Homo sapiens: one gene and its partners. The protein of the gene in region 3 interacts with the protein of the main gene of each other region in a pairwise test. Each region holds a gene or a part of one and is shown on either strand. Other genes may lie near its edges. The genes, in order: SLC39A2, ZDHHC15, UBE2J1 and SLC26A5.

What was found.
Region 1: the proteins of UBE2J1 (region 3) and SLC39A2 interact in binary tests that used the Homo sapiens proteins (3 or more experiments, as listed by UniProt).
Region 2: the proteins of UBE2J1 (region 3) and ZDHHC15 interact in binary tests that used the Homo sapiens proteins (3 or more experiments, as listed by UniProt).
Region 4: the proteins of UBE2J1 (region 3) and SLC26A5 interact in binary tests that used the Homo sapiens proteins (3 or more experiments, as listed by UniProt).

What each region holds. Positions count from the first base shown.
Region 1 is NC_000014.9:20,994,013-21,002,293, reverse strand, and holds SLC39A2 (zinc transporter ZIP2), read right to left. Parts: upstream 3,002-8,281; 5' UTR 2,848-3,001; coding exon 2,733-2,847; intron 2,553-2,732; coding exon 2,422-2,552; intron 2,179-2,421; coding exon 2,128-2,178; intron 1,348-2,127; coding exon 715-1,347; 3' UTR 423-714; downstream 1-422. Other genes in the region: METTL17 (ribosome assembly protein METTL17, mitochondrial isoform 1 precursor), read right to left, coding at 5,411-5,767, 6,002-6,085, 6,343-6,393, 7,061-7,129, 7,393-7,500, 7,681-7,751, 8,231-8,281. UniProt on the Homo sapiens protein: Transporter for the divalent cation Zn(2+). Mediates the influx of Zn(2+) into cells from extracellular space. The Zn(2+) uniporter activity is independent of H(+)-driving force, but is modulated by extracellular pH and membrane potential.
Region 2 is NC_000023.11:75,520,020-75,527,800, forward strand, and holds the start of ZDHHC15 (palmitoyltransferase ZDHHC15), read right to left. Parts: upstream 3,019-7,781; 5' UTR 3,006-3,018; coding exon 2,870-3,005; intron 1-2,869. UniProt on the Homo sapiens protein: Palmitoyltransferase that catalyzes the addition of palmitate onto various protein substrates.
Region 3 is NC_000006.12:89,328,703-89,336,034, forward strand, and holds part of UBE2J1 (ubiquitin-conjugating enzyme E2 J1), read right to left. Parts: intron 6,730-7,332; coding exon 6,600-6,729; intron 4,504-6,599; coding exon 4,384-4,503; intron 1,286-4,383; coding exon of another isoform or gene 1,256-1,285; coding exon 977-1,255; 3' UTR 1-976. UniProt on the Homo sapiens protein: Catalyzes the covalent attachment of ubiquitin to other proteins. Functions in the selective degradation of misfolded membrane proteins from the endoplasmic reticulum (ERAD) and is essential for cells to recover from ER stress.
Region 4 is NC_000007.14:103,408,084-103,415,415, forward strand, and holds part of SLC26A5 (prestin), read right to left. Parts: intron 5,030-7,332; coding exon 4,919-5,029; intron 3,504-4,918; coding exon 3,337-3,503; intron 2,467-3,336; coding exon 2,302-2,466; intron 1-2,301. UniProt on the Homo sapiens protein: Voltage-sensitive motor protein that drives outer hair cell (OHC) electromotility (eM) and participates in sound amplification in the hearing organ.

The DNA of each region.
Region 1 (8,281 bases), on a different chromosome or scaffold from region 3:
CCCTGAGGCCACACAGGGCTCGGTGTGAAAAAACAGGAACCTAATGGAGATAGGTTCCATTCTGCCTGATCTCCATTTAGCCTGGACATGTTATCGGTGGCTGATAATGGGTACTGGGAATGGGGTGGTTATGGTAAGTGTAGGAACATAATCGATCCACGTCATTTTGGCTTTTAACTTTCTTTCCTTTTAAATGCTGGGAACTGGCTCATTTTCTCAACTACAGTGGGTAAGGTGGGAGGGGAATTTTAGCAAGGTGCCATGTCTAGGGGTGTGGCTGCAACTGACAGGATGGCTAGGAGCCCTAATTCCAGAATAAAATACTGCATTCAACACTCATCCTTCCCATTCCCCATTCCACCACTTCCTGTGCCAGGTAGCATCTAGGCAACCAGGAGAAATGAAATCCAGAATGGCTGAAGGAGGGTAAAATGGGCATTTTATTACACACAGTAGCATAAATGGGATAAGAATAAAATCTGGAGCGTCTCTGTACCAATTCTCCAATTAATAGCTGCTCAACCTAAATATCTTTGTCTTAGTCCAGGGTGAGAAATGGGATCTCATGTAAAGGAAACCTGGGGTCCAGTCCAGTCCTACTGAATGCTATTTAGTCTGAGTAAAGAAATGTCTGAGGGTCAAAGCCATTTGGGAGGTCTCCCTGGGGATAGAGAGGTTGTCCTAAATAGGTCCATCAGAAAAGCCAGGAATCTCTCAGGCCCACAAGGCAATAAAGGCCATGAAGGCAAAACCAGCGGCTACACAGCTCCACTTAGCTAGAGGGGCCTCAGGACTAGCTAGCTCCCGTGGAAGAATTTCTAGGAAGGTGACATACAGGAAGGTACCAGCTGCCACACCCTCTAACACAGCCTGGGCTAAGCCCCGCCCTCCTTCAGAGTCCCCTCCAGTCACAGCCAGCCCTACGGCTAGGCCCAGGGGGGACATGAGAGCTAATAATAGTATGGAGAACACTGCCCATCGTGAGCTGGTACCTAAATGCACTAGCCGCATTCCTACACCAAACACCACAAGCCCCTTATGAGCCAGGACAGCAAGGCAGAGCTGCACGGTAGCTGCTACTGTCGGCTGCAGCCCCACAGCTAGCCCTTCAAACACTGAGTGAAAGGAGAGTGACAGCAAGAGGACAAGGGCTCGGAGGGGACCCTTTGAGGGTGAGGGTAAATGTCCATGGCTGTGGAGTTCGAAGATATGAGCCCCACCCCATTCTTCGTCCTGCACTGTCGATCCTCCAGCAGCCCCAGGACAGCACTGCAATGCCAGCGACTCCAAAAAGAAGACAAAAAAGAAGCCCAGGGAGATGATGAGCTCTCCATAGGGATACTCCATCTAGAAACAAAAAGAAGGGCTGTGAGATGGAAAGGAAGGGTAGGCAATACATTGGATGGACATGGAATTGGGAGATTGAAGAGAATGAGAAAATGTGGTAACAGAACACAAAAAAGGGTAGGGGAAATGAAGCCAAGAGTAGACATGGCCATGCAACAACAAGAATGCCAGAGTGGGCCGGACACAGTGGCTCATGCCTGTAATCCTAGCACTTTGGGAGACTGAAGTGGGCAGATCACTTGAGGTCAGGAGATTGAGACCAGCCTGGCCAACATGATGAAACCCCGTCTCTACTAAAAATACAAAAACTAGCCAGGTGTGGTGGCACGTGCCTGTAATCCCAGCTACTCAGGAGGCTGAGGCAGGAAAATCACTAGAACTCGGAAGGCAGAGGTTGCAGTGAGCCGAGATTGTGCCACTGTACTCCAGTCTGGGCGACAGAGAGATTTCATCTCAACAAACAAACGAAAAACAACAACAACAAAAGACTGCCAGAGGGGCTAAGGGACAGAATCTCAATAGAGTTAAAAACATGGGCAAATGATGTGAGGTATATCAGAGGATCCAGGGAAAGAATGAAAGAGTAAAACAAGGGCTTTCCCTGGCATTCTATAAACTCAAAAGGATTGGATTTGCTCCTCTTTTCCTCTACGATGTCTGAGCTAGGGAGCAGAAGGGATTCTTGGTACTCCTCATGTATTCCTCTCAAAAGGGTCTGGATATGAAAGGCCTCTCTGGTTCTCCTCACTCTCCAGATAGGGGATGGTGGGAGGTACTTACATGAGCTGAATCAGCATCACCAGAAGAATTTCTCTCACTTGCTGATCTGTTCTAAGAAGAAAGCAGCAGAAATTAGATGTGGGATGGAGCAGCACAGCTTCCTGTGCTGTCCCTTCAGCAATTCTGTTTTCCTTAAAGCCTAATCTGACTTGCTTTCACCATCCCACACAAGAGCTGTCATTTTCCTTGTCGTTCCACCCATGTCCTTGGCTCCATCACTTTCCCGCTCTCTTCCCTTTGTCCTGTTTATCATTTTGGCCTCATAGACCTGCGGCTTGAAATCTCTGCTCTCACCTGCACCATGAACTTCTGAATCTGTGATTCAATTTCCTCCAGGGCTTCAGCAGTCATATGCATGAACCCTGCTCCCAGGAAAACACCAGCAGAAATACAGCCCAGGAGTCTGAGGACTAGCCGGTGATGACCTAATAAAAAGCAGAAGTTACAACCCACTTGACACTGAGGAGACAGACAAAGGTGAGTAAAGAGCAGCAGGCAGCACTCAATATCCCAAGGTTGGGGATGGTGAGAGAATCAGAGCAAGGTATCAGGACAGGGTTGAGGTGAGACTCAGGCTATGGAACAAAGATGGGGTAGGGCTATACCTCTGGCTGCATCAATCTGGAACCATTTGAAGCAGATGGGAGTAAGGCCACAGCCCAGAGTGAGAGCCAACAGGGCAAACAGGCAGCCAAGTTTTATTCCTAGTAGTTGCTCCATCTCTGGGGTGTAGGGTAAGCCCAGGAGTCAGAATGACAAGGGAGCTGTAATCTTTGGAGCAGGAGTGGTATCTTAGGTGGTCAACACTGGAGTGTCCACTCTCGTGAGTTTCAGGAGGCTGTTGGTATCTTCTTTCTGTGTTGCTTCTGCTTCTGCAGCATTGCAGAGCTGACAGATCCTGCCCCAGCTTCTAGCCCTCCCCCTGCATGGAGGCCCCTCCCCTGGTTCACGCCTTCCTGAGCTTGGAAACCAGAAACTCCAGACTCCCTGCCAGGCACAGCCCAGTGGCGTCTTCTCCTCCTCTTCAATGGCATGACTAATCCAAGAGCTACGGATAGTCTTAGTTCATGTGCTTGGGGTTGGTCTAATCCAAAATAGGAAAGTCTATGGTAGCTGCTTCCCAGCTATTTTGTACTGGGGACAATCTGGTCCTGTCTCACTCAGGACGTTTGATCTAAGCCTTCCATACCCTCTCCACCTCATCCCAAGTCTTATAGGTTGCAATGCTGATACTTGAACCACCCGCTTTCAGAGATTTGGGGCCACCTGGAGGTAAAGAGGTGGGGCTGAGAGGTGGTGCTGGTGCTACTCTGTGGGAACTAGTACCCACATGAGGGAACTACCCTTTCCTGTAACCCCAGAAAAATAGCTCCAGGCATGGAAATGTCTAGTGGTAAGTTGATTTGTTTTTTTTCTTTCTCTTTTGATTGGGATCAGTTTTGAGAGGAATGAGTTGAGATGTCTGGTATTACAACATTTATACTGTTACAACTTCTAACTGTGCCTGTTTCCTGGTAAGAACTGTGGAAAAAAAGACATTTAAGGTTTAAGACAAAGGAAGCTGCTCTAGCCCTGAAACAGCAAGGCTTAGGGGAAAACAGAAATGAACTGAGTGAATGGGAGGATTCTACCTGGATATAGAGAGGTGGGGGTAGAAGATTCAGTTCTGATGGGAATCACTCTTGATGGAAATGTCTGGGGCATTTCCCATACATACTCTAGGGTAGCTGAGGGACCCTGGGAAAGACAGAAGGGAAGGCGTTAGTACAAGAGGCCAGGCAGCTGCTGATTCCCCTATTCAGGTGGCCCACATAACAACCCTGAGACCTGTTGAGCCAGTTCTCAGAGCTCTGGAGGCAGCTTTCCTTGCTACTCCAGATTATTTTCCTAGGGAAGTCCTGGCCTCTGGTAGAAGCAGTATTCTTACAGTGTTACTGGATGATTCTTACAGTGTTACTGGTCCTGCTGCTTGTTCTTGTGGTCCGGTAATGAGATGCAGACAGACAGACTGGGAAAGACGGGAGTTTATTTCTGCAACTGATTACAGGGAGGTCGGAGTAGCACACCAGACCAACTCAAAGTTACAAGCTTTTCTTTAGCTTTTATATACAATTCAAGCTCTATGACTACCTGCGGGAATGTTTCCTAATTAATCTAAACTAGGGGTCTGCAGGTAGAAGTTTTTTTTTTGTTTTTTAGAAACAAAGCAATAAACGATTTGATTTAGAAATAAAACCATTCCCATTATTGCAGCATTATCATCAGTCACTGATTGCTAATGCTGTTTACGCTTCTTTTTCCCTGGGATGTCTGAACCTGGCAACTTTTCTTCCTGTTCTTCTATTTTCTTAGCAAACCCACATCAAGGGTGTCTGTTCGCGTTTGAAATTCATCGGCACCAGAAAGAGCTAACATGTTGGCAGTATCTAGAAAACCATCAACATGAGCATGGGACAGTTCGCTTTGCAGCTGATCCCACCATAGTGAGTGAGTACTTGCAGACAGAAGTTTCTTAATCTTAAGTTGGTCCTGGGATGGGTTGTATGTGCAGGAATGCTTTTATCACTCAGCTAGATCTGAGGTAGAGAAAGTATAGGTGGGGCTTTAAAGGGCTTGCTTTTTTTGTATTCTGGCTTTCGTACTCAGGCACCAGTTTCCCCCGATTCCTTATCCATTTTTCTTGCTTCTGCTTTAATGTTTAACTTGTACATTCATCATTATAGCAAAGGGCTTATGGAAATCTGGTTTTTCTACTTCTGCTTTAATGATCAGCTTACACATTCATCATTACAGCGAAGAGCTTATGGAGCTCTGAACTGCCACAATAGGAGAGGGCGAGCTTGAGATTTGTGTGGGAAGCCTGGCACCAAAAATCTGAGGAAGCTCTTCATTACAGGATAGGCCAGGATAATTAACTATACCTTTTACATGTTTTTTTTTTTTTTTTTTTTTTAAGGGAGGACGTCTTGCTCTGTTACCTATGCTGAAGTGCAGTGTTACAATCAAAGTTCACTGTAGCCTTAACACCTGGGCTCAAGTGATCCTCTTGCCTCAGCTTCCTGAGTGGCTGGAAATGCAGACACATGCCACCGTGCCCAGCTTCTACACTTTTTAAGAATCACAAAATCCACTTCCATTCTTCAAAAATTTATTATTTATTATTAAAAATCTCAAACAAACACAGACATATGGGGATACCAGCATTCCCCTCCTGGATACCAGGCAGCTTCAGCCCTGGCAGGCACGATAGAAGAAAATACTTGTTACACATCCTCATCAACTCTCAGAGGGATCCTGAGCCGTAGATGGAGGAAACGCAGACGGAGTAAGCACAGGTAAAAGATCTCCCCAGGAGCTGACACGGGCACAACGATACAAATCCCTGTGGAAACAGATGCTGGCGTGGGCTGCAGCTTCCTGCCACATCCCACTGATTTTGGTCACACCCCCCATACCTGCCGTGCCGGCGGGCTGTGAGCACAGCATGCTGCATGTGCCCATCTGGACAGCACAAGTGACAATGCACATGGCGAGGCCGTTTAAGGACAGGCTGAGTGATACGGGGCCAGCGATGAGCCTCCTCTGGAGACCCCCGAGCAAGGATCACCATAGAGAACTTTTCTTCCTTTGGTTTCTTGTTCTAAGATAAGGAACATAGAGACTGTTTAGAAGAAAAAGATATGGGAAAAAAGTTTGTACAGTCCCTTCTTCCCCATTCCTGCAGTCCTTTTTTACAATGTATAAATCATATACATGTAGGCCCTAAAGTCTCCAGGCTATTCTACAAATTATCCAACTCCTCCTAACTCTGATTCTTTTTCTTCCTGTTTTTCCAGGATGTTTGCTTCCTGCTGCAATATCCCCAGGTACCTACCCAGCTGAAGGGGATGGGATGGTACGCCTGTGAGAAGCTACAGGCCAGGTTGGTCAACTGGGGACAAGGGAGTTCATGGGGACACTGTGAACACATAAAAAAATGAGGTAAGACAAAAGAGCCATCAATCACAAAACTTAAAAACTGAGAATAATAGAGTCAAAAGGGGCCAGGGAGAAGGGAGGACAGGAGCAGTGGGTAGGAAGAGCCAGGGGAATCATTAGGTAGGAACTGGATAGGAACACAAAGTAGTGGAGAGTGGCTTAGCTTTACCATCTTACATTTCCCGGCCACGCCTAAGTTCAGATCCGTGTGGTGGGACAGGCAGAAGTAATACTCACCGGGGCAAAGACAAAACCAGGTCGAGGGTCCAAAGGTGACTTCTCTTTTCCCTGAAATCAAAGGAAATAAAAGAAATAAAGCTGGGCCAAGGGTCTATTTTCATAATTCAATCTCTGCACTCAGTAAACTGAGGACTCCTTTAACACTCAATTCTAATAACGATTGACTATGTCCTTTGAATTAAGCTGGCTGCATCTTTAATACTCCAAACAAAGAACTTTCTCTTTGCTGCAGGAGAAAGGCAAGAACTTGGCACATAGTACGGTGCTCTCCCTTGTCAGCAACCTCCACTCTCAAAAAAATCCCACTCCAGGACAATTAAATTTATGATTATACACTGGCTCATACTCTCCCCCAGTGACAAGGTTCTTAGCTCAGCAATGCCCTAGATTAGGAGTCCGCAAAGTTTCTTTTAAAGGGCCAGAGAGTAGGCAAAATCTATCTCTGTCCCAACTACTCAACTCTGCTGTTTGTAGTGTGAAAGCAGTCACAGACAACAGAGGCACAAATAAGCATGGCTTATATAAAAACAGGTGGCAGGTCGGATTTGATCCACAGGCTCTCATTTGCCAACCACTGCTCTGTATCATAATGACTTCATACGCCCAGTTTCCTGAGAGCCACCCTTGTCAATACATGACAGTCTCTTTCGTTTTCAAGAGAGTAACAGTAATTGGTGCCATATGGGTGGGGGAGTGAGGGAAGAAGAAGCCTTACCTTAAGGACCAGATCCCTGGCATCCATGAGAAGGCTGTGCCCAGCTTTTGTTCCATTCTCCACCAGTACCTGTTCACAAAAGGGGAAAATATGCAGAAGACTTGAATTACACGAAAGTATAAATGTCAGTAGCTGTGTAAGAGCAATCATAGAGGGAGAAGGAGTCCTAAAAAGAAATAGGCATTACATAATCAGGATGGAGACCCTCAAAGAGGGATAAAGAAACCCATGAAGGAGAAAAATGGTGAAGAATAAAGACAATGAGAGGAGCAAAGGCATGAAATCCATGAAGCTGCTTCAAGACTTAAGGAGAACAAGGAATTTTAACTCACCAGGAAATGACCTGTCTTACGCCATAAGGTTTGAACTACCTCAGTGCGGTCAGCCTTGCTGGGCAGTTCACTTAAGGAAAAAGCTGACACTACTACATCAAACTGCACCTGAGGACCAAGACAAGGAACATGACAGACTCAACATCTCTACATCCCAAGAATACAACAAAGTCCTAGCCGCTAAATTTCTTTTATCTTCTAACACTCAGTGCTGGGCTGCAAAGCTCAAGCCATAGTTTTCCATCTGCCACATTCCACATTTAGAATATTCTAAACACTGCCACTTGCCTTGGGTGATACAGGTAGAAACTGTCTGAAAAAGACACCTGGAATATAAGGCTCCCCAGATTCTGAACCACCTGTGGAGAAAAGAAGAGGCAACTGTGAGTGTGTAGGAAGTTAGGTATAAACTGAAGAGATATCCAGATAAGAAACATGGCCCCAAGAATAGGTAAAGTGTATATCAAAAAGGGCAGGGATGAGCCAGGTATGGCGGTGCGTGCCTGTAATCCCAGCTACCCTAGAGGCTGAAGTGGGAGGATGGCTTGAGGCCAGGAGTTTGAGACCAGCCTGGGTAACATATGGAGACCCTACCTCTAATTAAAAAAAAAAAAAAAAGGGCAGGGAGAATATTAGGCCTCCTGTCCTTTGATTCTTACCCAACCCATCCTCAGTCCAGCAGAAACCTCTAATACCACCCTTTGCTTGACTATAACTTTAAAAGTAAACCAGATTCATCTTAATTTTTACCCTCTTCTCTACTTCCCAGTAAAACACTTTTACTAGTACCCCTTTGCTTTCTTAACTCCCTCAACTTTGGAAGTGCTCTTGCACTCACCTTTCAGTAGTTTTTCTGCCAAAACCAACATGGCAGCTGATCTGTCCACAC
Region 2 (7,781 bases), on a different chromosome or scaffold from region 3:
GACTGTGGCAACATACTGCCTGGGTTTTAAGTTTGGCCATTTACTAGCTCTGTGACCTTAGGTAAGCTACTTATTCTGTCTGTTCCTCAGTTTACAAACAAGTAATGATAGTATATACATTGGAAAGTTGTTATAAAGATTAAGTGTCTGTGTGTGTAGTCACCTAGAAATAGTACTTGGCATGTAGCAGTGTGGTGCAAGTATGTTAACTAAAACAAACAAATAAGTCCTACGCTTCCTTTCATCTGTTAATATTACATGACTAAAGAAGAACTTATAGAAGGCCAATTATTTGCAGTAACTTGGTCTTTACCTTGGTTTGCTCATCTGTGCCTCAGTTTACACATTTGTACAATGGAAACAGTAATGGTACCTGCCTCATATAGTTATTGTGATGATTAAATGAATTAATATATAGTTAATCTATCTACAGAACTTAGAACATTTTCTGGCACAGAGTAAGCAATACATAAGTGTTAGTCATTATCATCATTAATTTTTAAAATATATCTTGGTGAAGCTCATATGAGTCAATACTGAAAAACTCCAAAATAAGTTGTTTACAATATGGCATTGATCCTAGGAGCAATGTCCATACCATAATAATGGTGCTGAACTTTTGACCCTTCAATCAATCATTCAAAAAGCCAAAGTAGTAAGGTCTGAGAATAGAAAAGCTTCCCAGTCATTGCATAGTCTACTTAATGCATCCCAATACTGGATTGAGATACAAAAGAAAACTAGGCTAACTTGTATCTATGAAGGCAACTAATGACATTTATTTTAAGAGCTCTTTCTGCATTTTCCATAATATCTCTAAGGAAGAGGTAAAAAAAATTCCAATTGTGATTCAGAGAGGTAATTAGAATTAGAATATAGGAAATTATAGAATTAGAATATAGAAAGTTCTATATTGGAAAAGAGGATCATCTCCTGCCTCCCTAGTTTATCCCAGTCTACCTGGGGTAGACTATTGCTTTGCAAATATGTAACAGAAGAAAATTACAAATGGAGTCAGGTCCCGGAGTTCAAAAAAGCAGCATCCTTACCATCATTTTTAAGGTGAGAAGAGTTTGGTATGAAAAAATAAAGAAGTCTCAGAAGGACTTGGGAGTGAGGGGATGTCCAATGGGTCAGGAGTCCTACTGTGAGAGGAGTATAAACATATTGGAGCCCCAAACTAGATGAATAGGGAACATTGTAGGCCACAAGTTTAAGGGTGCTGGCGATGGAATTACAGTGTCGAAGTGACAAGACTGACAAGTATTAGTGGAATCTCTTTTGAGAGGAGACAGGGATTCTTCAATGTGAGAAGACAGGGACAAGGGGAGATTTTACTGTGAGAAAAGCAGGGACCCTATTGTAACAAGACAGGATATAATATGAAAACGCCATTGTGAGTTGATGAGAGCATTGCAAGGCCAATAATAATAAGAATGGGGAACGGGGGGAATTAAAGTGGAAAGTGGGAATAATATAAGGGAGAGACTTGGGGTTTGTGTCGGGAAATATTGTAGAATTCTGAGTTTGAATGCACAAGCTATACTGTGAGAACCATTTTGCAAATAAGGAGGATATAGAGTGCTCCTTAGTGTGACAGGACAGGGTAAAAAAAGATCATAGAATTATAAAAGGGGTAGTCTAATGAGAGGGAATGAGAAATGATATGCCCATTGGGAGGAGTAGAAAATATTAGAAACCCCAGTAAGAAAGAATGGGGTTTCCCCAGTTTGAGAAGATGGGACAAGTGCAATCCAATGAGAAGTAAGAAGAAATAATAATAAGAAATCCCAAAGGAAGTGGATGGCAGAATGTGGGGCTAAAAGTGAAAGAACACTGTGGGAGGTGGGGAGTGGGTTTCCTAAAAAAGATAACGAGGAATAATGATTAGAAAAGTAGCGGCCCTTTGATGGAATAGGAGATAAATTACGGAAACCCTTGTGGGAGGGTAAAAGAGGTGACTCTAGTGGGAGAAGGCACTATCATCATGTGACAATAGCAGGGTCACCAGTATAAGGTGTCAGAAAATAATGTGGGGCTCCTAATGGGAAGGAGTCGAATGCTCCTCAAAGCAAGAAGGCAGGAGACTGGAGGGAACTCCAGTATAATATAATCAGGGCCTCTCATGTGAGAGAGGATGTATTATAGAATACCAATCCCATTAAAGAAAATGATTAAATGGGGGGAGCCCACAGGGAAAGAGAATGGAGGGCTTACCACTGTGTGAAAACGGAAGATCTTAATGGAGTAGAATAGGGTGCACTGTGGGATCACAAGTGGACAAAGATATGAAGCACTTCAGCCAGTGTGAGAGGATCACGGGAAAACGATAGATTCCAGTGTGTGAAAAAGGAGAGCTAGTAAGAGAGTAGAGGAAATATTTTGGAACTCTCAGTAGGAAATCCCTAGTAGGAAATCCTAGTAGGATTCTAGTAGGAGGGAAAATGGTGGGGCTCCTAGTTGGATGCATTGGTGAGATTCCTAGTGTGAGCAAACAGTTTAAAGACACAGGGTATGTTGTTTCCTCAACTTGGTACAGTAGGGGCTCCCAGAAGGAGAGCACAAGGTGCAGATGGTTGCCCTGTATGAGAAAAGGGAGCCCTCGTGGGAAGAGCCAGGACATTATTGTGGGTAGGGCAAAGAAATAAGAAACCCTAGGTGGGAGACGATGGAGACACGGCGGGACCCTGGTGGGAGGGCGCAGGAAATATTGTGGGAAGCCAGAGGCTGGGGACAAGGAACTCTCCAGGGAGAGAAAGGAAAACCGCAGAGAGAAGGCTTGAGAACACAAGGGACACCAGTGTGAAGGTAGGGCAAACGATTATATTGGAGTATAATTTCCCCACCTTAGGTGCCCAGCCCCACTTACCCAGGCAGAGTTCAAAGACGTAGGCATAGTAGGACCAGAGCACGACGAGGACAATAACGAGCACTGGCACCCAGGACAGTACCCGGCGGCAGCACCGCAGCCCCCCAGACAGAGCCATCTTCCAGCCTCGCCGCATCTTTGGCTCGAAGATCGACCAAGCAGGCCTGCTGGCGCCGGGTCGGAACCGCTAGGGTGGCGGCTGCGAGGCTGGAAGGCGCGCTGTGCGGCACTCCACTGTCTAGCCTGGCGGGAACCCTCTCGCGGAGCCTTCGCCACCTGTGGGGCTGCGCTGCTGAGTGCGCCCTGCCTGGCACAACAGGCTTGAGTCACGGCGTTGAGGAACTAGCCATGTTGGAGCGGAAGGGTGATCCGTCAGGCAGTCGGAGCTAGCACGCTCAGAGGGAGTGCAGTCCCTCCCCTTTCTGCCTCCTCCCCACCCTGTTTCAAGGCTGGATGCAGGGCTAGACCTCCGCAAAATCGTGAAGCCGAAGAAATTTGGGTCCGCCCATCTGCTCTTACTGCACTGCGTCCGCCCTCTTTGTTTCTGTCTCAGTCTCTCTGTCTCCCTTCGTTCTCTTTCTCTCCCCCTGCTACCCCCCCCCACAGTTACACACACACACACACACACACACACACACACACACACACACACGCAGTGTGAAAGATGCGAGCCATAGCATCTCGTAACATGAAGGCCATCCAGCTCCATCCTCCCACTGCTGCTTGAACAATATGCTTAACACGTAGTGCCGCAGTCGCTGCTTGGGTAAGTCCTTTGACAGGGCACTCCCTCCTTCCCTTTTCCCTCCCCGCAGAATCAGCTTAGTATGTTTTTAGAACAAACACATTGGTATAAAAAAACAAATGAGGGAGACTGATTCTGAGAGGGGTCAGGGAAAGCTACAAAGGTAGCGATATTTAAGCTGAGCTATATTAATAAATTCAGGTTTTCCAGGCAGATGAGAGGAGGAGGACCTTTTAGACAGAGGAAACAGCATTTACAAAGTCATAGAGTAATGAAAGTCCAAAAATGTTCCAGGAGCAGCTAGTGTGGCTTGAAGAGTGTTTGTGAAGAAGAGAGGCTAAGAATGAGACTGGGAGTATGAGGCCATGGTGTGAAGGCTCTTATATGTCCTAGCATGGCATGGGGACATAATCATGTAAAGCAGATTATGAAGAGCCATCAAAGGTTTGGGGGAAATGGAGTGACATCAGGGATATGTTTTTGTGAAATAACTGGCAGGATTTTGGAAAGGAAGATGGCCTTGAAGTAGGAAGATCAATTAGGAGGTAATTTAATTCAACAAATGTTTTTGGAGTGGTTGCTTCCTGTTAGATCAACTTTGGTACAAAAAGAATGACAAAATAGTGGGCCTGACCCCAAGAAGCTCATGTTCTCATTGGGGCTGTAGTTGTTCATTGACACAAGTACAATAATAGAAGTACAGCAGGCTCTTGGCATTTATGGATTTGACACTCACTGTTTTTCCCAAAGGTCTTTTACATGGAGAAATTTGTGATTTTGCTGAGATGCATGTGTGATTCACATTCTGTGTGACTACTGTGTGGGAGCAAGTGTCTCTACGAGGTTGATCTCTGTTCTTTATTTATGGTTATATATGCAGTAAATTACCTGAAGTGATAAAAGATTTATTGTTTCTTTTCAGATTAAGCTAATTTTATGGTTGATGTTACTAAATTCATGATGCAATGAAATGCAGAGTTCATTTTAGTTACAATATTTAGTAGCCTAGTTAATTATTTGAGCCCTAAGTTTCTGACATGTATACTTAAATTTTCCAATATTCATAATTCGGGGCTTGTGGAACATGTATATTGGGATTGTCAAGGGTATACTATTTAAACCAAGTAGCCTTGAGGAGGCAATGATTAAGTGTGAAAGGGAAAGTCCCAGTTGGGTTTTGAATAATGACTAGGATTTCACCAGGAAGATAAGAGATGGGAGCAGGATTTAAGGGAGGAGGGGATTCCAGGCAAAAGGAAATATGTAGTGGCAAATGTATGCGAAACAGCACAACATACTTGGGGGACTGCAAGTAGCCCGCTTTTGCTGGAAGATATTAACAGTACTCTAACCAAGAGATGGTAAGAGCCTAGGCCTAAGCCAGGCTATGAAGGGAAGGAGAGGAGGGGAAAGATGTAATAGTGTTTGGGGAAATCAACAGAATTTGTCAACCAGTTGGCAGGTGAGGAGTGAGATAAGTTAAAGCTAACAGCCAGATTTCTAACTTCAATGCCTGAATGAACAATGTTGCCAATCACTATGATAGGGGCTATTGTGAGAAGAGCAGAGTTCGTGGGGGAAGTTGATAACTTTCACGTTTTGACATGATTAATTTTGCCTAAGTCTTCCTCTTCTAAGGTAGCCCGATCACTAATCAAATAGTCTGGGGCCGGGGGGCTTATGACAGGGATAGCTCACACCCAAAGGAGCATGGAGGGCCAAGAACCAGAGAGACAAACCATGTTCAAGTGTATACATCAAGGATTGGCAAACTATGCCTATGGGCCAAATATGGCCCACTGACTTTTTATGAATGAAGTTTTATTGGAACACATTCATGTCAATTTGTAGTCTATGGCTGTTTTGTACAATGCTGAGTTGGAGTAGTTGTGACATAGGTCATATAGCATGCAAAGCCTACATTTATTTAAATTTATTTTTAAAGACTTTATTTATTAGAGCAATGTTAGATTAACAGCAAAATTGAAAGGAAGGTTCAAAGATTTCCCATATAACCCCTACCACCACATGCATAGCCACCTCCATTATCAACATCCCCCACCAGAGTAGTACATTTGTTAGAATCTGTGAATCAGCATCAACATATATTTATCATCCAAAGTCCATAGTTTCTATTAGCATTCACTATTGGTGTTGTACAGTCTGTAGGTTTGGATGAATATATAATGACTTGTATCCACCATTACAATCTCATATAGAATATTTTTGCTGCCCTAAAACTCCTCTGTGTTCTACCTGTTCATCTCTCCCTCTCCACAACTCTTGGAAACTATTGATTTTTTTTGTTTTTTTTTACTGTTTCCATAGTTTGCCTCTTCCAGAATGTCATATAGTTGGAATGATACAGTATGTAACCTTTGCAGATTGGCTTCTTTCACTTAGTAATATGCATTTAAGATTCCTCCATGTCGTTTCATGGCTTGATAACTCATTTCTTATTAGTGTTGAATAATATTCCATTTTCTGGATGTACCACAGTTTATTTATACACTCACTCACTGAAAGACATCTTGGTTGCTTCCAAATTTTGGTTGTTATGAATAAAGCTGCTATAAACATCCATGTGCAAGTTTTTGTGTGGACGTAGGTTTTCACCTTATTTGGGTAAATACCAAGGACTGAGATTGTTGGATCATGTGGTAAGAGTATATTTAGTTTTGTAAGAAACTGCCAAAGTGTTTTCAAAAGTAGCTGTACTATTTTGTGTTTCCAGCAGAAATGACTGAGAGTTCCTGTTGCTCTACATCCTTGCTAGAATTTGGTGAGGCCAGTGTTCTGGATTTTGGCCATTGGAAAAGTCTGTAGTGGTATTTCATTGTTTTAATTTGCACATCTCTGATGACATATAGTGTGGAGCATCTTTTTGTATGTTTATTTGCCATCTATATATCTTCTTTGGTGAGGTGTCTGTTCAGGTCTTTAGCCCTTTTTTTGAGATGCTTGCTTTCTTATTGTTTAATTTTAAATAATTTTTGTGTATTTTAGATTACAGCTCTTTATCATGTGTCTTTTGCAAATATTTTCTTTCAGCATGTGGCCTTTTTATTCTCTTGATAGTGTCTTTAGCAGAGCAACTTTTTTATTTTAATGAAGTCCAGCTTATTAATTCTTTCTTTCATGGATTGTGTCTTTGGTGTTCCATCTAAAAAGCCATCACCAAACCCAAGGTTATCTGGATTTTCACATATGTTACATTCTGGGAGTTATACAGTTTTGTGTTTTATATTTAGGTGTGTAATCCATTTTGAGTTAATTTTTATGAAGGGTGTAAGGTCTGTGTCTAGATTTATATTTTTTGCATGTGGATATCCATTTGTTCCAGAACCATTTGTAAAAATGATGATCCTTCCTAGCACTTCGGGAGGCCGAGGCCAGTGGATCACCTGAGGTCAGGAGTTCGAGACGAGCTTGGCCAACATGGTGAAACCCTGTCTCTACTAAAAATACAAAAACTAGCCAGGTGTGATGACATGCGCCTGTAATGCCAGCTACTCAAGAGGCTGAGGCAGGAAAATTGCTTGAACCCAGGAGGTGGAGGTTGCAGTGAGCCAAGATTGCATCACTGCATTCCAGCCTGGGAGACAGAGCAAGACTCCGTCTTTAAAAACAAAATAAAACAAAACAAAACAAAACAAAACAAACAAGGTCTTTTCTCCATGGTATTGCATTTACCCCTTTGTCAAAGATCAGGAGATTTTATTTATGTAGGTCTATTTCTATTTCCAGGTTCTCTATTTTTTCCACTGATCTGTTTGTCTATTATTTCATCAATATCACAGTGTCTTGATTATTGTTGCTTTATAGTAAGTCTTGAAATTGGCTAGTGTCAGTCCTCTAACATTGTTCTTTTTCAATATTGTGGTGTTCTGGTTATTTTGCCTCTCCATAAAAACTTTAGAACGAGTTTGTTGATATCCACAAAGTAATTTGCTGGGATTTTGATTGGGATTGCATTGAATCTATGGATTGGGAAGAACTGACATCGTGATAATATTGGGTCTTCCTATCCATGAACATGGAACACCTTTCCATTTATGTAGTTCTTCTTTGATTTCATCAGAATTTTGTAGTTTTCCTCATATAAATCTTCTACATATTTTGTTAGATTTCCACGTAAGTATTTCATGCTAATGTAAATGGGATTTC
Region 3 (7,332 bases):
TAAGTAAAGGTTTTTCTAACTTCTATCACTGTTACTTGGGCCCTGAGGTTTTCTATTAAAATAGGACATGAAATATTTCAATATTATGCATATTCCTGGAATAATTAAAATTTATACTGATTATAAAGCTAGGCATATAATACATCCCAAAAGACATACATTTCAAAGCAGACCAAACATTCAAATCTTCAGATCCCCCCATTTAACTTCTGGAAGAAAACCAAGCGATCTCCTGGCTTGGGCCCTTTCTTCCTTAAAAATCTATGGAAGACTGTTTTCTTTCTTTTTAAATTTGTGTGATTATGGCAGCAGAGGGCAGGGGGTGGTGATAACAGCATATCAAAGTGGTTACAAAGTACTCCCTCTTCAAGTAGCATCCAGTGACAAAGATGTGATCTCATTTCCTCATAAATGTTTGACTGAAATAAAATTATTTTCACTGAAGAATGTTTAGGACACAAATAAAGTCACAGAATGAGCAATTCCAGTACATCTCCTATGAATGACATTTTAAGGAAGCTACTTGAGGAGTTTTGCTTTCCCTTTTCAACTCTTCTATCCCTATACATTCTACATACGTAGAAACAGAGTACTCAATAAGTGGTATTGAGTAACTAGTAATACTCATTGGAACTTAAAACATCATCTTTTATCCAAAAATTTCAAAGGGCAATATAGGAAAGTATTACAAATTTACATAAAAAGAAGATGAAACATGAGAAAAAACAAGTTATTTCCCTGCAAAGCAGATCAAATAGTGAGACAAGGAACTTTGACTTCTAGTCCCTTTAAGCAGGACGTAACTGCTAGACACAGTCTGAATGTCTAGATATATTTATACTAAACTTACAAGGATCAAAAAAAGGAATGAAGGGTAAATACAAAATAATCTTTTTGTAAACAATTCTTAGATTATACCCAATGCAGAATGTTTAATGAAGCAGTTGAGTCACAGCTCATAAGTCACAAAACCATATTATAACTCAAAGTCAAATATGTATTCGTTTGCCAGATATATTCGTCGGAATATAAGAGCTGCCAATGCCAAAGTCAGGATGACAATCAGTACAGCTGACCCACCATGATCAGTGTGGTTGTCTCTTGGCTGGTGGCCCTGGATTACATCTGGTGAAGTAGACAACCTTCTCTGACTCTGCTGCTGGGCCCGGCGCTGTCGAGGGCTCATGGAGGTATTCTTAGCTACAGGTTGGGTAGGTTGATGAAAGGATGCTGCTGAGGAATTCTGGAGTCCGTACTAGGAAATTTTAAGAAACTTTGTTTGAAACTGGCAAAGAAGATTTGTAAATACACTTGTTATCTATTCAAGAATACACAATCTCAGAGGACAACATATGACTAAGGGCAACACTACCAAGAATGATTGTTACTAATAATACATCCCTTGAGGGGCATCTAAATTTAGGTTCAAAAAAAAGTCATAAGTTAGGACAGCTTTTTGGCCTTTTAATAGTTTTATTAATATATTTAGAAAAACAATCCCTTAAAACATTGGTCTAGATGATATTTTAACACATACGCTTAATGAAAATATGTATATACATATAATGTTTTAATTAGGTTCCTATGTTTCAGATGCCTTTTGTCTCTATTTTTTTAATCATTATTTTTTTAGAGATGGGATCTTGTTACATTGCCCAGGCTGGTCTTGAACTCCTGGGATCAAGCGATCCTCCTGCCTTGGCCTCCCAAAGTGCTGGGATTATAGGCATGAACCAACGTGCCCAGCCTCAGATGCCTTTTGGATGGTATATCACTAACTAAAAATTAAGTGCCTTGATATTATAAAATTCTAAATTTTTTCCTATTTAAAACAATCATACAGCACTTTGGGAGGTTGAGGCAGGAGGACTGCTTGAGCCCAGGCATCTGAGACCAGTCTGGCCAACATAGTGAGACACTATCTCTACAGAAAAATTTTAAAACTTAGCCAGGTGTGGTCATGCCCACCTGTGGTCCTAGCTACTTGGGAGGTTAAGGCAAGAGGATCACTTGAGCTCAGGAGGTTGAGGCTTCGGTGAGCTATGATCACATGCCTGCACTCCAACCTGAGCAACAGAGTGAGACTCTCCCTTAAAAAGATAAAAAATCACATTCTTAGTTAAGTCCCTAGTGATATATATATAAATTTTTCTAGAATAACCAGCATGTGTGAGGGAGTTTTGCTTTTTATTATAAAATGAAATGGCTTATTCAGAACCTCGATCCCTACCCTGGGAAAAGGAGAAAATCTGACAGACTGCAAGAACAAAACTGCCTTCAGTGTTTTTCCCATTTCTACATTTCCCATTGCTTTTTGATGCTAAAATATCTGCATTAAAAAGCAACAGATGGCCTGATGTTATCTGAGGTATTTAGAGTTGTGGCAATCTCTTGCCTCTCCTTCAGGCTAACAACAACAAAAAAATCATAGCTTATCTGGGATTTGATGTATAACATCTCAATTAATTTATATTATACTTAATGTAAAATAACCACCCTTAGCCAAACCAGGTTTCAGTTACTTTCATAGTGGTCAAATTATATAATCATACTCTGAGATAGTTTATATGTAAATATAATTAAAAACTTAACTTGCAATTTTAGACAATTTATTGCTTGTTGGTATTTTCACTAAAAATAGTCTCAATTAATGACCTGTATCTATGAATAAGAATTCTAAGTTTTATGTACTAAATCAAAACAAGAAATACTACTATAATAACATCATTATTTGTACACTCTAATTTACTTAAACTTCTTGATTTATTTAATTGTATTCTTAGCATTTTTTAAAGTACCAATCCTAAGATTCATTCATTCAATCAACAAACAAACATTGGCAATCTACTATATAGAAGGCACTAAGCCAGGCACTGGGGATACAGTGGAGAAGCGGAAAGAGACCCCTGACCCTCACAGAACTTACATTCTGGGAAGAGAGATAGACAATAAATAATTACAAAGTAAATTACAACTGGAATAAGTATAACTGGAATATGTAACAAGGGGACTTAACATAGATTGAAAATACACAAAAGATTTAAATACATCACAAACATTAGGAGGCTGTCCTAAAAGGTGAAAAAAGATTACCACCTTCCTTTTTGTAATAGAATGCTTCTATTAGAAAAAAAACTATGAAATAAAAAGTAATTAGAAAGCTTTTTCAATATCTTGAACTAAAACATATTGACCTTAAAATTAATTCATTGTTTTCCCCTGCAATTCATAAAATTACATTGGGATCACACAAAAATGATTTAAACTCATCGCTACACACTTTTTTCTTGGACCTCCATCTTCAGTCCCCCTAGACTACCACCCTGTTCTTCTTCAACCAACTTTTCTCTGCCCAGCTCACTCTCTGAATAGGAGAGACTCACTCAAGACTATTCACTCCCACTTTACGTACGTTATTGCTGGGTAAAGGGCAAATCTATATTTGCCCAACTTCTATTTCAATTTTCCCTCACCCTTTAAAGTCTTCAATAAACTGGAGAAACAACAACAAAAAAAATGTGACTACTTAACCAAACAATCTGTTACCAAAAAGACTTCCAAAGACAGTTAATCTTTTATATATAGGAAGGAAAATCATTTTTTTCCCATAATCCTTATTTTTTGGCACCAATCCAGTCATATTTTTTAAATCACTCTCTCTGATCACCTAGGCCAAACAATTTCTTAGACAACAGGTCAGGGCACCACTAACAACACTCATAGCATTCATTCTTTTATTCAACAATTATTTATTGGACACTTAGTATATACGAGGTAGCATTGTCCAACAGAATTTTGTGATGATAGTAATGTTTATGTCTACACTGTCCAATATGGTACCCATTAGCCACATGTGGCTATGGAGCACTTGAAATGTGGTGTGACTGAGGAACTGAATTTTAAATTCTACTTGATTTTGATTAAATTTAAATGTAGACACCTGCATGTGGCTGGTGGCTACTGTGTTGGACAGAGCAAGTCTAAGTAAATTTTTGGCTCTACGACTTTATTAAGTCAGTACCTTAATGCAGCTGAACAATCCTGCCAAAAATAGTGTCTATTTAGAAAGTGGCTAACATATGGATATTTTGTTTTATTCAGTCTAACACTATATTAAAATTAACTTTTCAGAGAATCACAGAATTCTGGAGGGACAAGACAAAAATTATTTAATCCAGCCCCATTTAACAAAAAAAGAAAACTGAGGCCAGAAAGCATGAACAACTTGCTCAACATAATAATTCATTAGCGGGACTGATGAGTTAGAATCCAGTTGTTAAGAGAACCAAATTTTTCAGATATTTGATCCAGGATCTTCTCCTCCTATTGCAAACAGTGATAATGATAGAGACATACATATATATTAAAAGATAAGAGCCATACCGATGTACTGGCCGTAGCACCCTGGAATGTTGTAGGTATATCATCTTGTAAATCAGTTAGTGAAAAAGAGTGGTTTAAGTCTGACTCAGAGATAGTCTTTCCAGATGAATTGACTTCTGCCTATAAACAAGATAGACCCAAGAGCAGTGTGACAACAGGAAACAACAGGAAACATACACAATCTACAACCTGCTAAATCCTCTCTGTTGGATTTATTTTAATTGCTAGTTTAATATCTATTATCAGGCAGTTAATCACTGAGCACTCTTGTGTCCAACACTGTACTAGGTATCATAGGAAGAAGCATACACAACACCTGTTCTCAAGAAGCCGTTACTTGATGAGGGACAAAACTAACACCCATGGTTCACAATCCACAATGCTAAAAAGCTCTCAAAACTCAAGGTTTTTTTGGTAATTTTTAGGCAAAGCCTGATATGAGCTGATGTGAACCTATGAATAGTCTTTATCCCACATTAGTGTAAACATTAATCCCACATTAATGTAATATTCCCAGATTTGCTGAAGAAATCCTAATGGATTTGATTATGAGGTGCTGCCCCAGATCGCACGGCAGGTTAGTTAATATATGGTATATGTAAGATCTTTTCTTAAGTCTGAAAAATTCTCATGTACAAAACACATTTGGTCCTGAGATTTTTCAGAAGCAATTTTAAGTGTAATAGGAATCCTCAGAAGGAAGAAAGTAAACATGTTCTGAGCAACTCCTCCTCCAGGCACTACAATAAAAGAGAAGGGAACTGGACCTGGAAAGACAGACAGTCCATAGAGAAGTGGAGAGGGAAGAGGAAGAGAGCATGCTGCTTAATGCAGGTTGACATTTCTGTTTGTGAAGCTAATTAAATTCCAGAAGGATTAAATACTTAATACTTTACGTCTGTATGTATGTATGTATTTATTTATTTATATTTTTTTGAGATGGAGTCTCACTCTGTCACCCAGGCTGGAGTGCAGAGGCACAATCTTGGCTCACTGCAACCTCCACCTTCCAGGTTCAAGCGATTCTCCTGACTCAGCCTCCCAAGTAGCTGGGATTACAGGCACACACCACCATGCCGAGCTAATTTTTTGTATTTTTAGTAGAGACAGGGTTTCACCGTGTTAGCCTGGATGGTCTCAATCTCCTGACCTCGTGATCTGCCTGTCTCGGCCTCCCAAAGTGCTGGGATTACAGGCGTGAGCCACTGCGCCCAGCTAATACCTTCAATAATTAAATATTTAATACTCAAAGTATTAAAATATTATATAATCCTATGTTCGGGTAAAACATATACAGAAAAAAGGGATATATAGGAGGGATGCCAAAATATTAACAGTAGCTATTTCTTGGCGGTGAGATTATGAATGTCATTTTCTTTTTCTTTTTTCTTTTTTTTTTTTTTGAGATGGAGTTTCGCTCTTGTTGCCCAGGCTGGAGTGCAATGGCGCGATCTCGGCTCACCGCAACCTCTGCCTCCCAGGTTCAAGCAATTCTCCTGCCTCAGCCTCCCGAGTAGCTGGGATTACAGGCATGTACCACCATGCTTGGCTAATTTTGTATTTTTAGTAGAGACGGGGTTTCTCCATGTTGAGGCTGGTCTCGAACTCCTGACTTCAGGTGATCCGCCCGCCTTGGCCTCCCAAAGTGCTGGGATTACAGGCGTGAGCCACCGCGCCCGGCCATCATTTTCTTCTTGTTGCTTATCTATATATTCTGTAATAATAGCTAGAATTTATTAAGCACCAGGGACAGTTCTGAATGCAACACATGTATTACATATATTAATTCAATCCTCACAGCAATCCTATGATTTAGGTACCATTATTATTTATAGATAATAAAAAGGCACAAAGTGGTTAATTAATATGTCTGACATCATACTACTAATAAGCAACAGAGCTGGGATTTGAACCCTGGCATTGTATACCAGAGTTCAAGTTTCACTCCCTCACTATTCTATAAAGCTTTCATGAATGTAGTTAGGAATTTTGTAATAAGAAAAACATTCCATGCCAGTATTAAAACATTTCATGTACCCTATACATATATACACCTACTATGTAACCACAGAAATTAAAAATATAAAAATATGAAAAAAGAAAAACATTGGCAAATGTCATATTGTAATAGAACTGCATCGCTTTCCTTTCTATGCAGAATCCAGCAGTAAACAAAAGGGTTGCAAGATTAGCATTTATTTAAGAATTTATAGTACCTTAAAGCTTATTTGCCTAGCCAGTTCTTTGGCTTCTTGGTCAGCTTGGCTTGAATCGCTTCCAGATTTTAAAGGCAACAGGACATCCTTCATGGCAGAGCCACATCCTTCACAACAGAAATCTTGTGATCTAGTAGAAAAAGATTTTTTAAATGAAAATAAATAGTTAAATGTTTAATTCCCTCTCACTGAGACACTCAAATGCTCGATCATTAAACTTAAAAGAAAGGAACACTGGAAAATTCCACATCACATTTATCCACATGCTATGAATTAGAAAATTAATGTAATGATTATAGTCCTGAGACAAGTAAATGTTAGGCTGGCTTTAAAAAAATCCAGGGCTCAGATGCTATTTTTTCCAATAAACTATCTAAAGAAAAATAAGTTTTACATCTATACAATGAGAAAATTGTCTATTATACTGTCCTTGAGATCACATATAACAAACCTATTTTAAGGCTGTGAAAAAAGTCCTTTAACAAGATCAAATTATCTGTTAGCAGAAATATATATAAAGCAGTAAAGAAACTAATTAAACATAGAATTTACAGATATTTCTAGGGAAAAAAAAACCCCTCACAAATAGCAGTATAACTTGAAAGACTTGGGAGAACTTGCAGAAAATCCAAAGACTTAATTTATTGCTGATTATACATTAGGTAGAGACTCAGGATATGTCTGTTAACTAGATTATTTTCTAAAATATATTTGTTTTTCCATTTTTCCCTTT
Region 4 (7,332 bases), on a different chromosome or scaffold from region 3:
CACCAGCCATTCCGTTATTGGATATTTCTAGTGGAAAGTTCCAAGGCTGAAATCTCTCTTTGTAGCTTCTACCAATTAGGAGGCATTTTTACCCAGTCTACAACTTTATAGTTGTTACTCTTTTCTTTTTATAGTTGTTATTTATTTATTTATTTATTTTTGAGACACAGTCTTGCTCTGTTGCCCAGGCTGCAGTGCAGTGGCATGATCTTGGCTCACTGCAACCTCTGCCTCCCAGGTTCAAGCAATTCTCCTGCCTCAGCCTCCTGAGTAGCTGGGATTACAGGTGCCTGCCGCCACACCCAGCTAATTTTTGTATTTTTAGTAGACACGGAGTTTCACCATGTTGGTCAGGCTGGTCTCGAACTCCTGACCTCAAGTCATCTGCCTGCCTCGGCCTCCCAAAGTTCTGGGATTACAGGTGTGAGCCACTGTGCCCAGCCTTATAGTTATTCTTATCAAACAATTATTCTTATCATATGCTGATGTCTCAATGTAATATTATAAAATCCAGAAAAGGAACCCTGAAGCTGAGTCCTGAGCAATTGGAAAGAATTAAGGGTTGATAGCAAAGTACTCCAAAGGTAAATACATTGAAAAGCTTTTAGGAGCTCAAAGAGAGAGAAATTATTGTTAGCAGGACTTTGAAGTCAAGAGTGCTGATGTTTGGGAAAGGAACCTAGGAGAACTAGAGAACAAATCCACTTAATTATATCCTAGGGTTACCAACTGGGCACCTCAAATATAGTCAGTTCTCATTTGAAACCCAATAAAGTAGACTTCCCACTCAGCCCACAACATGCACCCTTTCCTATCGATGCCTAGAGTACTCAGTATGTTTTATTTCCTTTGTGACAAGGCATTTCGACAAGTCTCAGAGTAAGAAGTATGATAATAGCTATTATGGGAAACTAAGAATTTTGTTATTTAGAGAATATTCCTAAAGCCTGATTCCATTTTTATCAGTCAGGGACTCAACTTAAATGTCAAAGTGCCTTTCCTAGACCCCTAATCTAAAGGTCTCCCTATTTAACTTTCAGAGCAGCTGGTACTTCTTCTTCATAGCACTCAACACAAATTGTAATTGACTACACATGTATGCGATTAATGGTTTACAATCTTCCCACTGTACTGAAAGCTCCAGAGGGCAAGGCCTGTATCTTCTTAGCTCACAGCTGCATCTTGGCACCTAGCAGTGTCTGGCACATAAATACCTACAAAGGCAACAGGCCTCTCTTTTCAAGGATAGCTTTAACAGCATCTCAGAGGTTTTGATATGTAGTACTTCTACTGTCAATTAATTCTAATTATTTCCTAATTCCCTCTTTATTCATGGGTCATTTAGAAATGTTTTTTGGTTTCTAAATATATGGGAGTTTTAAAGCTATGTTTAGTTTTTGATTTTTTTATTATATTGCACTGTGTGAAAAAACATTGAATTTTTAGAATTTGTGATCAGTTTCACATGATCGATTTCAACATGATCAGTTATTACCATTGTTCCTTAAGTGCTTGCAAATAATTTATATTTTCTCTGTGTTTGGTAAGGGGTCTATATAATTAAAAGATTCATGTTAGTTAAATCTTTTATAGCCTTACTTATTTTTTGCCAGTTTGAACTAGCAGGTTTTGTTTTTTTTTTGAGACAGAGTCTTGCTCTGTCGCTCAGGCTGGAGTGCAGTGATGGGATCTCGGGTCACTACAAGCTCCACCTCCCGGGTTCACGCCATTCTCCTGTCTCAGCCTCCTGAGTAGCTGGGATCACAGGTGCCCGCCACCACACCTGGCTAATTTTTTTCTATTTTTAGTAGAGACGGGGTTTCACTTGTTAGCCAGGATAGTCTCGATCTCCTGACCTCGTGATCCGCCCATCTAGCCCTTTCAAAGTGCTGGGATTACAGGCATAAGCCACCACGCCCGGCCTTAATTAGCAGTTTTTGAGAGAGAAATGTTCTACCTTCATGCCTTTAAATTATTTGTTAGTTTCCAAAAAGATCATGATTTAGTTGTAAGAAAAAGCTCTCTCTTTACCTAGAGTGATGGTGCAGTCACCAAATAAAGACCTAGCAAAAAATTCCTTGTGAAGTAGGCAGTATCACATATTAATAACAGAGATTTTAAGGTTTAGTTCTCTTTGTAACACTCTTTTCAGAAAACCTTAGAATAAATGAATTTTTCCCTTTTTATGGAAATTACTGGAGAAAAAGAAAAATGAGTCTTGAAAGTAAAAAGAGATACAGAAGAGAAGGTTGGGGGGAATAAAGAGAAAAGTACCAGAACGTCAGGTAGTTTCTTACTTACATACACCACGGAAAAGATTCCACTGTACCGCTTTGTTTTAACTCCAAACAGATATTTTAACATGGAGGTGAAGACATGCACAGCTGCTGCGGTGGTAAACCCACGGACCAGAGGCTCTGTGAGATATATGGCCACAAATCCAAACCTACAGACACCTAGGCAAAACTATTTTTTTTTAATGACAAAGAAACAAATGAATCACATGATAGGTCAGGAAGTTATGACCCACAGCAAATATACAAGTTCTTTCTTGACCATTTTCTTTTTTTTTTGAGATGGAGTCTTGCTCTGTCACCCAGGCAGTGGCACAGTCTCAGCTCACTGCAACCTCTGCCTCCCGGGTTCAAGCGATTCTCCTGCCTCAGCCTCCTGAGTAGCTGGGACTAAAGGTGTGTGCCACCATGTCCGGCTAATTTTTGTATTTTTAGTAGACACGGGGTTTCACTATGTTGCCCAGGGTGGTCTCGAACTCCTGACCTTGTGATTCGCCTGCCTCAGCCTCCCAAAGTGCTGGGATTAAAGGTGTGAGCCACCGCGCCCAGCCTCTGGACCATTTTCTAACACTGCAAACTTGTACCTCAAGTGGGTAAGTAGCTAGAAAATCAACCACTGGTTATACAGAAAACAATGGAAGGTCTGGAGTGGCTTGGTGCCCCACAGTGCGCTGACCACACTAATGCCTTCCCTGTCTCTCATTGAGCTGGGGGCATGCTTCATCATGTAGACTAAAGTGCATGATCATGATCACTGGCTGTTTCTTCCAAGCAGAGAGGAATGTCCTCTCCCAGCACTAACCAATCCTGCCGTGTCAAACTTGTCTTGCTTTTGGGATCTTTAAAACACCCACCTGAAGCTTGCTTGCTCGTCACTCATAGTTGTGAATATGGCATGCAGTTGGTCTGCAGTTACTCCCAGAGCTCTGGGGTTTTTCTGGCTGACCCCATCCACCGTGTAGTAAGACCAGCCAAGAGCACTCAGTAGATACTTGTTAGGTTAACAAACGAGACAGTCCATTTCCCCATCTTTGAGCCTTACCTGAATGATTCCTGAAAGTAAGGTCACAGACATGGCGACTTTCACTCTCAAGGCATCTCTGGCCTCTGTGCCATTGGTTGCATTTACTCCTCCTGGAATGACTATATCATCTGGTACTAATCGAACAGCTACACCACCAATCATCAGGCTAATAACAGCAAAAGGACCTGAAATAATGAAGCATGAAGATCCCTGTTCAGGGTTCAGAGTATCTGATATGGTTTTTGCCAGTACACCAAGAGACAAAGGTGAGGTCAAGAAATCATGCTTGAAGGAAGGCTACGCTCCCTTCTTTAGTGTCCTGCCCCTGGTGTATGAGCAACCGTGTGTGTGCGTGTGTGCGCATGCAGACTGTATTTTCCAAAAATAGACATAGCAATATCTTCCATCCACAGAGTCTTCTTGACATTTCCCCATCAAGAGGTGGAGTCTAATTTCTCTCTCCTTGAATCTGGCTTGGCTTTGACTTGTTAGTAATCAAAAGAATGCAGCAGAAGTGACGTTGTGTGACTTCTCAGGCTAGGTAATAAAAGGGCTGCAGTTTCCACCTTCTGCTGAAGCCCTAAGTCACCATGTGTAAGAAAGCTCCAACTAGGCCAAGTGGAGAATTCCTGGGACTGCATGGAGAAAGGAAGGCAGGGAAGAGGGAAGGGAGGGAGGAAAAAGGGAGAGAGGAAGAATTACCCAGACCAGCCCTTCCCAAGTCCTGAACTGCAGGCACTATGGAAGATACAAACATGATTGTTGTTGTAAAGCTGCTACATTTTGGGGGTATTTGTTACCAAACAGTAGATATCTGGAAAGTATGTGTGTGTTAGGTAGTAGCCTTATGCAGCACCAGAACTATTATGAAATCCATATGCCCCTGATAAACTGAAAATATGTACAATTCAGAGCCCAAAATATGACAAAAATGAAATACATGCATAGCGATTAGGAACTTGAAGTACTACCATTAGTATAAAAATAAAAACCAGAAGCTGGCAAATTACATTATGAAATCAAGCATTTATCTCATTTCACAGATTTCAACAATTGCCCTTTTACACAAGAAAATTGTCTTTTTTATTATCCCAAGATTATAAGAAAATTGTAAGTTCTAGAAATCTTGGGAGGAGTGTAGTTTTTTTTTTGTTTTTTTTTTTTTTGAGACAGAGTCTCGTTCTGTTGCCCAGGTTGGAGTGCAGTGGTGTGATCTCAGCTCACTGCAATCTCTGCCTCCCAGGTTGAAGCGATTCTCCTGCCTCAGCCTCCTGAGTAGCTGGGATTACAGTCACCCCTCACCAAGCCTGGCAAATTTTTGTATTTTTACAAAGAGATGGGGTTTCACTATGTTGGTCTGGCTGGTCTCGAACTACTGACCTCAGACGATCTGCCCGCCTCGGCCTCCCAGAGTGCTGGGATTACAGGGATGAGCCACCGCACCTGGCCGAGTGTAGGTTTTTAAAGCACCTATTGTGTATGCAGTAACAAAAGTTGTTATTAAGACAATTTTTAATAATGACCATGCTATTTCTTTGGCACATTGCAAGGTTGGAAATACACAAGGAAAGGTAATAGAATATCAAATGTAAGCTTTTACCTATGGATATGTGTCTGGAGGTTCCAAGAAAACAATACATGATAACAGGGTAAAATGAAGAGTACAGGCCAAATATTGGAGGCACAGCTGCCAGCATTGCAAAGGCTAAGCCTGTGGGATTAAAAACCAAACAGAAATGGGGGATCATTAGAAGACAGAGGTGTTACATGTGTTTTTCTCTTGGTTCTTTATTTCTGATGAACGAGTGAAGCCCATCTTAATTTAAGCTGCAACCTGCCCTACCCCAGTCCTGCACATCATCTTACCTTGGTGCTGATAGAGTCCAAGCTGAGAAACTTTGCATTGTCATCTCCTTTTTGCCAGTGGGTGATTTTTTTTTCTGCTTTATTCTTTCACAAATTAGATAAAAGCAGAAAAAAGTCTTATCTTAGTGGTTGTCATTGTAATTTGGTGTTGACTCACAAATGCGAGCTCGTTCTCCAATGGGGTGTTTTTGTGGGTTCTCTGGAGACCCCTTTGCAATAAGGGACTCTCAGTTACTATGCCCTAACCTATGTAATGCTCCCTCCTCCTGACTCTTAGATATCCCTCCTCCGACTCTTATCAGAAGGTACAGCCTTCCACGTTCTTTTGGCTGGTGTATGCTCATCCTGTAGGCAGTCTTCTTAGGCAGGTACCTATCAAATGGGCCAAGTCTCATTACCTTCCAGTTACTCAATGGGAAAGCTTGACATTTTACTCCCAAGAAACTTTGGAAGTGCAGGTCACACCCTCTAGGGGACTCTTTCCCTCACTCTGCGGTCCTAGGCAGTTCACATCATCCTTTAGACATTTTTTTTTAAATAGAATTTTTAGAGCAGTTTAGGTTCACAGCAAATTGAGCAAAAGATACAGAGGTTTTCCATACATTCCCTGCCCTTATGTATGCACAGCCTCCCCCACTATCAACATCCCCCACTATCAACATCCCCCACCAGAGTGGCACATCTGTTACAAGTGATGAACCTACATTGACCTATCACTATCACCCAAAGTCCATAGTTTACATGAGGTTTACTCTTGGTGTGGTACAGTCTATGCAAATGTACAATGACAGGTAGCCATCATGATAGTGTGATATAAAGTAGTTTCACTGCTCAGAAATTCTCTGTGCTCTATTCATACTTCCCTCCCCCCATCCCCTGGACACTAATGATATTTTTACTGTCTTTGAAGTTTTGCCCCCCCCTTTTTTTTTTTTTAAGACAGGGTCTTGCTCTGTCACCCAGGCTGGAGTACAGGGGCATGTTCATGGCTCAATGCAGCCACAACCTCCCGGGCTCAAGCAATCCTCCCACCTCAGCCTCCCTAGTAGTTGGGACTACAGGTGTGTACCATCACACCTGGCTAATTTTTGTAGAGACAGAGTTTCCCCATGTTTCCCAGGCTGGTCTTGAACTCCTAGGCTCAGGCGATCTGCCCACCTCAGCCTCCCAAAGTGCTGGGATTACAGGCATAAGTCACTGTGCCTGGCCAGTTTGGCCTTTTTTAGAATGTCATTCAGTTGGGATCATACAGTATTAAGCTACACCAGGCTGACTTCTTTCACTAAGTAATAAGCATTTAAGGTTCCTTCATGTCTTTTCATGGCTTGATAGCTCATTCCTTTTTAATATTGAATATTTCATTGTTTGGATGTACCACAGTTTATCCATTCATCTACTGAAGGCCATCTTGATTGCTTCCAAGGTTTGGCAATTATGAATAAAGCTGCTATAAACATCCATGTGCAGGTTCACTTGAAAGTTTTTTAAAAACTAGTTTTTAGAGCAGCTGGACTTTTTCATGCAAGAATTAGGCAGCAGTCTTCACAAACTCCAGGGGGTACTGTTCAGCACGCTGAGCAGCTTTCTTGTAGTCCTTTCTTACTTGACTACAGGTGGAGGGGAAATGGATAGGGTTTTAACCTCTCCCTGGAAAATTCTCATTCCAAATCAGTCTCCTCGTTCCCTCATATATTCTGTTAAAGTGACACACTCAAGAGGGCCTGGGTCATTCATTCATAGCTTGGGATAGATTGACTGGCATCCCTCTTCAGAATGTGTAGGCAATAAGCCCTTTTTATTCTCAGCTTTGGGGGCTCAGCCAAATTTCTGGGACAATTAGAAAACTCATTTAATGCACTGTTATGCTGTGGAGAAAACAGCTTTAGCAAAAGAAGAGTTGGGAAAGCATCCTAACTTCATGTATAATAACATGGTCACTCGAATGTTGTTAAAAAAATTTATTTCTAGCAAAGAAATGTATGCATACGATTTAAAAAGCCAAGCAGCAAAGGCTCTCTGGAAGAGCCAGCTCTTTTCTGCTCACCCCTCTTCCTCCAGGTTTTGCTCCTCGGAGCCAATCACTTCCAACTCGTTTAGCTGTTTTTCTCTATTTACCTCCATTTTCCTAAATCATCATTCTCAAAGGAG